Linked DNA regions of Homo sapiens. The protein of the gene in region 2 interacts with the protein of the main gene of each other region in a biochemical or structural test. Each region holds a gene or a part of one and is shown on either strand. Other genes may lie near its edges.

What was found. The genes of interacting proteins can lie anywhere in the genome.
Region 1: the proteins of ACSL5 (region 2) and USP29 form a complex in vitro, tested with the Homo sapiens proteins (one study listed by BioGRID).

What each region holds. Positions count from the first base shown.
Region 1 is NC_000019.10:57,115,538-57,122,984, forward strand, and holds the start of USP29 (ubiquitin carboxyl-terminal hydrolase 29), read left to right. Parts: upstream 1-4,447; 5' UTR 4,448-4,692; intron 4,693-6,787; 5' UTR 6,788-6,937; intron 6,938-7,447.
Region 2 is NC_000010.11:112,425,377-112,429,331, reverse strand, and holds the end of ACSL5 (long-chain-fatty-acid--CoA ligase 5), read right to left. Parts: coding exon 3,851-3,955; exon of another isoform or gene 3,075-3,850; coding exon 2,973-3,074; exon of another isoform or gene 2,545-2,972; coding exon 2,473-2,544; exon of another isoform or gene 2,115-2,472; coding exon 1,974-2,114; 3' UTR 956-1,973; downstream 1-955. UniProt on the Homo sapiens protein: Catalyzes the conversion of long-chain fatty acids to their active form acyl-CoAs for both synthesis of cellular lipids, and degradation via beta-oxidation.

The sequences.
Region 1 (7,447 bases), on a different chromosome or scaffold from region 2:
GAGATAAATTGGCAGTCTTAAAAATGGGTTCACGGTCTTTCGTGCCTTTGGCTTTAGAAGACACGGTGGCCAGCCTACTGTTCTTTGGATCATCCCACTCATTTCTGTTGGGTAATTTCTCTAATTTTTCCTCCTCTGGCTTTCTTTTAGCCCCTTTATTTATCTAAGTTAAAATTTCAAATATTTTTCCAAATTACCAAAAATAATTCCATTAAGAATTTGATTGAGACTGGGCGCAGTGGCTCACACCTGTAATCCCAGCACTTTGGGAGACTGACGCAGGTGAATCACCTGAGGTCAGGAGTTTGAGACCAGCCTGGCCAACATCGTGAAACCCCATCTCTACTAAAAATACAAAAGTTAGATGGGTGTGGTGGTGCACACCTGTAATCCCAACTACTTGGGAGGCTGAGGCAGGAGAATTGCCTGAACCAGGGAGGCGGGGTTGCAGTGAGCCCAGATCCCACCAATGTACTCCAGCCTGGGTGACAGAGTGAGACTCTGTCTCACGAAAAAAAAAAAAAAAGAATTTGATTGAGTGAAAATACCTGGGCAGGAGAGACACTCCATTCTTTGTGCCTTTGATGCTCTATTGTACCTTTTTCTTTTCTTTTCAAGACATGGGGTCTCACTATGTTTCTCAGGCCGGACTTGAACTTCTGGGCTCAAGCCATCCTCCCACCTCAGACTTCTAAGTATCTGGGACTGCAGGTGCAAGCCACTGCACCCAACTCTTAATGTACCTTTTACACACATTTGTGTCACAACACCTGTGCCACACCCTTAACAGTTTTGCAGATGCACATCCCAACGTTTTTCAGTTTTGAGAAAAATCACTTTTATTTGGTAAAAATCACACATGCTTATGAAAATAATTACACATTGCACCAAAGTGACAAAGATGAAAGTAATCACTCCAGATCCTAGTTCCGAGAGGTTACTATCTTTAACAGTAGGCAAATAATAAAATCCCAGGTTTTTTGTTTTTTCTTTTGAGACGGAGTCTCGCTCTGTCACCCAGACTGGAGTGCAGTGGCACGATCTCGGCTCACTGCAAGCTCCGCCTCCCGGGTTCAGGCGATTCTCCTGCCTCAGCCTCCCCAGTAGCTGGGACTACAGGCGCCCGCCACCATGCCTGGGTAATTTTTTGTATTTTTAATAGAGACGGGGTTTCACCGTGTTAGCCAGGATGGTCTCAACCTCCTGACCTCATGATCCGCCCACCTCAGCCTCCAAAGTGCTGGGATTACAGGCGTGAGACACGGCGCCTGGCCAATCCCAGGTATTTTTTCTATGCAAATATACAGAAGGCTGGATGGATAAACAGATAATACATGTAAATACTTAAATTAGAATGTGGCCCAGGAGAACATGAACTCCATGAGGTCAGGGATTTTTGTTGGCTAGGTTCACTTCCACATCTCCTGTACCTAGAGTAAGGTTTCTCAGCCTGGGCACTACTGACATTTGGGCTGGATAACTCTTTTTGTAGGAGATTGGGGTGGGTGGGGAGCGTGCCATCCACTGCACTGTAGGATGCTGAGTAGTGTCCTTGGCCTCTACCCTGGCAGAAGCATCCATGTGACAACCAAAACTGTCTCCAGACATTGCCAATTGTCCCCTGGGGGCAAAACTGCCACCAAGTGAGAATCACTAACCTAGAAAAGTGAGTGTTCAATACACAATAAGTGCTTGTTAAATGTATTACACAACCGGAAAATGATGTAAGGGCAAGTTAAAAAGTAATGCAAACTGGCCGGGCACAGTGGCTCATGCCTGTAATTCCAACACTTTGGAGGCCGAGGTGGGCAGATCACCTTGAGGTTGGGAGTTCAAGGCCAGCCTGGCTAACATAGTGAAACCCCGTCTCTACTAAAAATACAAAAATTAGCCAGGCGTGGTGGTGGGCACCTGTAATCCCAGCTACTAGAGAGGCTGAGGCAGGAGAATCAATTGAACCCAGGAGGTGGAGGTTGCAGTGAGCCTAGATCCCCGCCATTGCAAGTCAGCCTGGGCAACAAGAGCAAAACTCCATCTCAAAAACAAACAAAAAAAAAAGTAATGCAAACTCATCTGGGTTTTGGTCATGTCCTGCATCTCCTGAGGAAGGGCAGAGGGCTGAGGAGCAGTCCTTGGGAAGCACAAACATGTGAGAATCCAGGTTGGCTCTATGCCCTACCCAGTAACGTAGCCCCAAATCTCTGCCTTAGCTGACATGGGGGCACACTGAAGTCTTGTGAAGGGTAGAAGGGACCATGTTGAGGCAGGGACAACCTTGCCTACAGGTGATTCAGGTAATCCCACAAGTTCAGCCACAGAAAACAAGCATGACCATGTGCAAAGACTTCCACGAGACCACTTGTCACAGGGTTGTTTTAATTCAAGCAACATCAACATACACCAGAAACTTGTGAAGAAAATTATGGCACATTTGTATAACTTCAGTGTCAAGAAGCCAGCGGTATTTTGCAGATAATGCAAGGTCTGTAGATCGAAAATTAAGTTGGGTGTCTTCCTTTAGTGTACAAACACCTTGGATGTTTGAGGAAATCCAAAGACAAGGTTCTAGGCATTTTATACGTGTTAACTCATGTATTATGTTAATTCTCACAATAATCCTTTGGAACTAGTACGATCACCATCCCTGCCTTATTGAGGAGGAAATGGGGTACAGAGAGCTTAAGCAACTTGCCAGTGTCATGCAGCAGGGAAGCGCTGGAGGCAGGGCTCCAACCCACGCAGCCTTGCTGCATGTTTGTGGAATGAACACAGGACTCAGGCACACAACCATCTGGCTGAGGCTCCATGAGCAGCCAGGAGCCTGGTCCCAATGCAGTCTCCTTATAGGCACAAATGGGGTGCCCCTTGAGACAGGAATAATAAAGGTGGTCACAGGAGAACGGAAAATTCCAGGCAACAGTTTCACATGACTAGCAAAGGAAACCGTTGAAATCGCTGCGTAAGCTAGGGGCGGATAAGACTCTGAAAACCAGGGTGTGGGCCAAGCTGGCTAAAGCCGACTGGACCCAACATGGTGCTGGATTCGACCCGTTTCACCTAGGACCTCTCATTATGTGCTCATTAACATACTAAGTCACACACCCACTGTGACAGCTCTGGGGAACACCCGTATTTAGTATAAAAATGTGTGGCACCGCAGTACCAAGAAATGTTTACCTTTTTCCAAGAATCTTCATGAATATTCCACCCCTTGGTTAAATAAATATTTAAAGGTAGCTCCAAACCCCGCTGGGCGTGATGCTCTGTGGTATGCCTGCACTTTTCTTTCTTCAGTACGTACTTATTCCCGTCGCAATGAATCTCCACACTTTGTTCTGCTCATCCATGAATTCCTTCTCACGACAGTGTCAAGAGCCTGGACACCAGTCAGGGTCGAGGCCTCACCAGCATCTTGGGGCCTCACTGGGCACAGACGCGTGAGCGCCCGGCCTGCAGACCTGACTCTGGCAGCCGCTCAGGCCCTCAGAGGGAGAGATGGAAGCTGGCAGGACGCAGTTGCTACCGCGCGGACCCGGCCCCCGACCAGCCTTGGCCCCTCGCGCGCCGGGACAGGGCCACAAATGACTGCACCTGGGCTTCGCTGGCCCAGGCACCACGCGACTCTAAGCGCGCCCAAAGCGACCCTCTGCGCAAACTACCCCCGGGGACGACGTCACCCGTGAGGTCCCGCGGCGCCTCCTCCTAAAGCTCGGCTGGGAAACCGTCCGCTTCCCCAAGACTTGGGGGCTTGTGGCCGAGTTGTTTTAGTTTTCCTGTAGGATTCACGGGTGGCTGAGGCAAACACGCTTGAAGGCCTAAGACTTTTAAGTCTCTTCCGCACCCTCTCTTCTGTCTCTTCCACCTGGAGGATGACCGCTTTTTTGGGGGTTTTGTTGTTGTTTTGAGACGGAGTCTCGCTCTGTCGCCCAGGCTGGATTGTAGTGGCGCCATCTCCGCTCACTGCAACCTCCGCCTCCCGGGTTCAAGCGATTCTCCTGCCTCAGCCTCCCGAGTAGCTGGGATTACAGGCGCCCACCACCATGCCCGGCTGATTTTTGTATTTTTAGTAGAGACGGGGTTTCGCCACGTTGGTCAGGCTAATATCAAACTCCTGACCTCAGGTGATCCGCCCTCCTCGGCCTCCCAAAGTGCTGGGATGACAGGCGTGAGCCACCGCGCCCGGCCGGGATGACTGTTATTAACAATTCCCGGCGTGGTTTCTAGCACCAGCCCACCTACCACACCCCACCTCGCTTGAGGCTGAATGGGTAACAGGATGAACCCGCCCCTGGGCTGGTTTTCTCTGAACCCTAACTCCTGCCGTTACGCCCCACCAGCTCTAGGCCAGGAACTCTATGTGCCCCGGCCACGCTAGAGCCCGTACCTAGACCCGTAGGTCGGGAGGCCTGCGCCCGGCACTGCGCAGACGCAGCGTGCTGTGCCCAGAACTCTTCTGTTCCCAGGAGAATCAGGGGAGTCGGCGCCGGAAGGGGCGGGTCCGAGCTGAGATTTCCAGAGCCATGGGAGCCGGAAGTCCAAGGAACTGTACCTCCATCATGACGACTCCGGTTACGTAAAAACATTCAAACAGAAAATGCTGGCCAGGCTCATGCCTGTAATCCCAGCACTTTGGGAGGCCGAGGCGGGAGGATCGCTTGTGCCCAGGAGTTGGAGACCAGCCTGGGCAACATAGTGAGACCCTCCCCCCACCCATCTCTACAAAAAATTTTAAAATTAGCTAGCTGAGATCATGCCACTGCACTCCAGCCTGGACAACAAAGTGAGACTATGTCTCAAAAAAATTTAAAAATTACCCACGCCTGTAGTGTCAGATAGTCAGGAGGCAGAGGTTGGAGGATGACTTGAGCCTTGGGGATCGAGGGTGTAGTGAGGTATGATCGCACCACTGCACTCCAGCCTGGGCAACAGAGCAAGACCCTGTCTCAAAAACTATATAAAAGAAAAAAGGGCTGGGTCGGTGGCTCACGCCTGTCATGCCAGCACTTTGGGAGGCCGAGGCGGGTAGATCACCTGAGGTCAGGAGTTTGAGACCAGCCTGACCAACAAGGTGAAACCCTGTCTCTACTAAAAATACAAAAATTAGCTGGCCATGATGGTGGGTGCCTGTAATCCCAGCTACTGGGGAGGCTGAGGCAGGAGAATCACTTGAACCCCAGAGGTGGAGGTTGCAGTGAGCCGAGATCACACCACTGCACTCCAGCCTGGGCGACAGAGCGAGAGACTCCGTCTCAAAAAAAAAAAAAAAAAAAAAAAAACAGAAAAAAGGCCGGGCACGGTGGCTCACTCCTGTAATTCCAGAACTTTGGGAGGCCAAGGCGGGCGGATCAGGAGTTCGAGACTGCCTGGGCAACATAGCGAAACCCCGTCTCTACTAAAAATACAAAAAATTAGCCAGGCGTGGTGGCGGGCTCCTGTAATCCCAGCTACTCAGGAGGCTTAGGCAGGAGAATCACTTGAACCCAGGAAGCAGAGGCTGCAGTGAGCCGAGATCACGCCATTAAACTCCAGCCTCGGTGACAGAGTGAGACTCCATCCCCGCTCCGCTCCCTCACCTCCCGCCAAAAAAAAAAAAGAAAATGCACTGCAATAGAAAAATAAAAGTACTACACTTTGGTCAAACAGGGTAACTACTAGAACGTAAAATGATCTTTTTGAAACTATCCACATTTGTTACACGTGTTGAAAATGTAGGATATATATGTTATATATATACTTATATATGTTATATATACTTATATATGTTATATACTTATATATGTTATGTACTTATATATTATATATACTTATATATGTTATATCTACTTATGTTATATACTTATATATGTTATATATACTTATATATGTTATACATACTTATATGTTATATATACTTATGTTATATACTTATATATGTTATATATACTTATACATGTTATACATACTTATATGTTATATATACTTATATATGTTATATATACTTATATATGCTATATATACTTATATATGCTATGTATACTTATATATGTTATATATATACTTATATGTATGTTATATATACTTATATATGTTATATATGCTTATATGTATGTTATATATGCTTATATGTTATATATACTTACATATGTTATATATACTTACATATGTTATATGTACTTACATATGTTATATATATACATATATGTTATATATATATAATTATATATATATAAAACAAAAAGCACGGTTACTACAAAGAAAACAGGTAAACATTAAGTGGAGTAAAAGTATATCCTGTTATATAAGGGACTTGAACATGTCTGGGCATGGTGGCTCAAGCCTGTAATCCCAGCACTTTGGGAGGCTGAGGCGGGTGGATTACTGGAGGTCAGGAGTTCGAGACCTGGGCAACATAGCAAGACCTTGTCTCTATTAAAAAATAGATAGATAGATAGATAGATAGATACATAGAACATCAAAAGAGGGAGAGAGAAAGCAGACAGATGTGGCAAAATATACACAATTGGTAAATTTGGGTGAAGGGAATATAAGTTATTTCTACTAATCTTGCAATTCTTATGTATATTTGCAATGATTTCTAAATAAAAGTTTTTAATTACCAATTGAAATAAAGTAAAATAAGTCACTATCTAGCCTTTTCTAGACAAATATTTTAAACTCTTACACAGAGATAAGTTAATCAAGAAACGTATTTCCTGGAAAAACCCGTGATATGGGTGGAGCCACCTGGGAATAAAAGGTCGGAACATCATAATCACTGTCAGACTCAACTTCCATCATTCTCCTCCAGGCGCTATGGAGTCTAATCCAGGCACTTTGGAAGGCTGAGGCTGGAGGATCGATTGAGGCCAGGAGTTTGGGACCACCCTGGGCAACATAGCAAGATCTCATTTCTGAAAAAAGAATTATCATCCACTCACCCAGAACAGCTCTCCAAACTGTAAGTTTCATTCAAGGTTTGCTTGTTTGGGTGATGGGATGTGTGTGTGTGTGTGTGTGTGTGTGTGTGTGTGTGTGTGTGTATGTGTGTGTGAGTGTTGGAAGGAGGGTCTGTCTAAACTTAATGCCCTAAAGATATTGTCAGATATTGTGATGAGGGGAATTTCATCTTCTACCCTTTATGAGGTTGAATTGTAAATTCGAAAATCCTGATTCTGGGTTTTTATTTTGAGGGGATAGTTTTCTGTTTTCTGTGGCATTGGATATTGGCATTTTCAGAAAAGAGCATGCATCCAAAATGAAAATGATGAAGCCTACCTGTCTTTTGAACTCAGCTCAGGGAAAAGCTGATGATCTCTAATTTTTGTGATTCCTCCTTTCATTAAATTTAAGGTCCAGTGAGGGTGAAGTTTCCCTAAAGAGGCAATAATTTATCAGCAGCAACAGGATGAAATGGAGGGGCTTTTCTTCACACTCTATATATTATGTTAGGATCTCTCAGGAAACTGAG
Region 2 (3,955 bases):
GGACCTGTGTCTGACACGTTTGAGAAACAGGAAGGTAACTAGTGAGGTTCAGCTGTAATGCGTGAGGGGAGAATAGGAAAGGAAGTGAAGGCGAGAAAGTTAAAGTGATAATGGGAGCTAGACTTTAAAAGTTAATTCCTGCCTACCCTTTTGTTTCAGATCCTTAAGAATAGATATTTCTTTGGCTTTTCTGGGCTCAAAATCTAGAAAGACCATCCAAGAACATTCTCTTTAACTCCAGTTGGAGGCCAGAAAAGAATACTATTAATATTCAAGATTATAATTAGAGTACAACAAAGATGGTAAAAGAATGGATATGACTTGTGCTCAGTTGGAGTTTTGGCTCAGCTGGTATTTGTTTTATTCTTTACAGCTATGGGATAAGAAGGTTTGGTCTTCAGAACTTACTTTTCTTCACTAACCTGTTCGCAGACTAGAATCATCTGTGGGTCTTCTTAACAATCTCAGTGCCCAGGCTGTATCCGGCCATTTAAGCCAGAATCCCTGGAGTGGCAACCAGGCATTAGTGGTTTTTTTGTTTTGTTTTTGTTTTTTTTTTTTGAGACAGAGTCTCACACTTTCACCCAGGCTGGAATGCAGTGGTGCGATCTCGGCTCGCTGCAAGCTCCGCCTCTCGGGTTCATGCCATTCTCCTGCCTCAATCTTCTGAGTAGCTGGGACTACAGGTGCCCGCCACCACGCCCAGCTAGTTTTTTGTATTTTTAGTAGAGATGGGGTTTCACCATAGTAGCCAGGATGTTCTCGGTCTCCTGACCTCATGATCCGTCCGCCTCGGCCTCCCAAAGTGCTGGGCATTAGTGTCTTTTTAAACTTCCTAGATAATTCTATTGTGTACCCAAGTTTAAGAACAGATACTGTACTTGATTTTTAAGGGGTCCTTGTTTAAGACTGATTTTCATCATGGTCCATGAGGAAAGAAACACCACAACGTAAGTATCTGTAATAGTTTATTTTAAAGACTTTACATTTACAAGTAGAAACAACATGTGTTATCTGTGGGTAAGGTAGAGCAGGAACTCTAATCCAAGGGTGGGGGAGATCAGTTGGTTCCTTCACAGAAAATAAGCCTGTTGTGTGGGCATCTTGCTTGCCTGTAGATCTTTGTTCCCAGTTCAGGAGGTTTTTATTCAGTGCTTGCTTCATTTACTGGAAAAGTTCACTGGGCCCACCTGTCAACTCCTTCCCCCACAGCTTCCAGCTCAGCAGCAAACTGTAGGGAACAGATTTACTCCCCAGTTCCTACTGTAAATAATGCTTTAAGAACAGCATTCCTTTTGGACAATATGTCATAGACCCAATTTTTAATACTCCCAAGTCAGATATCTAACTAGAGAGTTTAGGAAATGTTTGGTATGATCAAACTTTTCCCTTCAGTACACAATTTAATTTACGCAGAAGAGCATCGGAGACATTTGTCTCATAGATATGATTGACATGAGTGATAGGCTAAAACTAAAATTTTAGTGGTTTGTGGAGTGGCTAGAAAACATGAATTGTAAGCAGTTTTTCAGAATTTAAAAATCTCTTAGTTTGAACAGTAGAAGATGTAAATAAGCATAGAGACTGTTGGCAAGTTATGTTTATCACAAAACAAAGAAGAAGGCACAGAGGGTCCCTTTGACCCTTGAACTTGTGGTTACTAATAGTATTAAGGTTGGAAATCATGAGGAAGGACACAGAACATAAACTGGGATCTTGAAGACAGGCATGTTGATAAAAGTAGCCCTGAAGCCTTAATATTAGCAACATCGAAGATGGGAAAGACAGGATTGATTTATTTGGGAACTAAGTTTACACATTATATGTCTCAATATAAAACAAAAGCTATGGCTTTAGAGTTTAACAGGTTAAAAAAAAATAGGAGGAAAGGCAAAACAAATGTAAGAATAGTTTTTAATCCATTTTCTCACAAGCAGTGCACAGTGGGCCGGCAGGTACTTAAGTACCTTATCCTAATCCTGGATGTGCTCATACAGGCTGTCAATTTGGGTCCGAAAGTATTTGGAAAGCTCTCCTCGCTTTGCTTTCAATGTTGGTGTCAAGAGCCCATTTTCAATGGAAAATGGCTCTGGATGAAGAAAAATGGCTTTGACCTGGAAGATGAACACACACACATCCATGCTCATTAGTGATTTGGACTTCTCTGCAGAGCCCCCTGAGTGCTCTGTGAAGAAAGTGAGGTTGATGCAGTGAAAGGGTAAAGGTAACAGTAACACATGCCCATTCCCACAAACATAATTTAAGAAAGTAATGAGTAGGGAGAAGGGAGAATGGACAATAAACAGCAAAAAAAGGGCGCTGTACAAGTAACTACAAAAGGTCATTTTGTAGTTAATGGCACAAAATCTAAAATCAATTCCTTAGAAATTATACATTTAAACCTCATTAGATGGAAACTTTAAACAAAACTTTCTGACAAGAGGCCAGTATAACATCAGTGGTAGCACACACCTGTTCAAAAGTTTTAAGGCCACTTTCTTTCCCAATTTTCTGCAAGTCTTCTAAAATGGCTTCCCTTACAACCTAAGAATACAAAACATCACTTAAAGCATGGCTGTTTCAAAAAGCCTGAAGGGCTAAGCATGAACCAACTCAAAGTGCCTGTCAAAGCCATGCAGTATGAAAGCAGGAATATAAAACTATGCACAAGCACATTATATGCCCAATATTGAAAGAAAAACTGAGAAGAAAAGGCACATCTAAGTGTTAACAGTTTTCTCTGAATAGCATTTTTACTCTTCTTTCCCAATCTTTTCCCACAATGAACATATTATTTTAAATAGAAAAGAGAGTTTTATTTTTTAAACTCTCCATCCTATCCCCGAGTCCCATAAAACTATTCAGTCTGTTTGGGCTGCAGCCACTTGTGACAGATGCAGGAACTGGTGAGGCATCCTCTCCTCCACGATGGGCCCATGGGTGTGCATAAAGCTTTCCTAGGCAAGACTTACTTGGTTTTGGCACAGTTCCTCAAAGGAGCCCTTCACCCCAAGCTTGGCTGCAAATGAGGGAAGTACATCTGTGTCAGGAACCACCACTCCTACTAAGGATGACTATGGAAAGGAAATAAAAGGTGCAAGGGCATGAGAGAAGTTATGTAGGGATGTCCCCCAGTAGTTAAATAAAGCAGAATTATGTCATTGTAATAGTTATTTCCCCAAAACCTTAAATCCAGTACTAGTGTTCTTTTCTCACCATATATTTTCAACACCATGGAACTGTAATCCCATTTTCCCACTCAATATCTCATTACAAAGATGTTCCATTCAAATCTGATCCTTCAACATTAAGCTTAAAGCGCCTCTGGCTTGTCCATGTCAACTCTCCCCTTGTCCCCTAAAAGCTACATTTAAGCACAGTGTGTATAAAACAGTTCGTTGTTTTGGGATAAGGAGTTCCTTAAAGCTACGTTTAAGCATAGTATGTATAAAACAACAGTTTGTTGATCAAACTTTTGTTTGTTGCTTTATATATATTGCAACAGTTTGTTGTTTTATACATACTGCTCTTAAACATAGCTTTAAGGAACTCCTTAAGGAATGGGAACTAAGTGCAATGTGGAGCTCATTTTTTACTGAATCATTACCTTTTAGTATAGCCATTCTAAACAATTCTACTGACTTGTGTACAACGTCCATCATAGTTTTGAAATTTTTTAAATTGAAATTGCCTTATTTGAGGTTTGGAATGTAACTTCATTTTTTTTTTTTTTTTTAGTTTTATAAGCTTGGATCTTCTCATTCTGAACCCAACTATACAAATTTCCTGTAGCTACAAGAACCAGCATGGTTTGTGACTGAAATGGGCTATTGTTAAAATGATATATTACCCGTAAGCTCTCCCCGTGTACAAAAATTTGTAACACTGGTTGACTCCTGTTGTAGATATTTTCTATCTTCTCTGGTGCAATGTATTCTCCTTGGGCCAGCTTGAA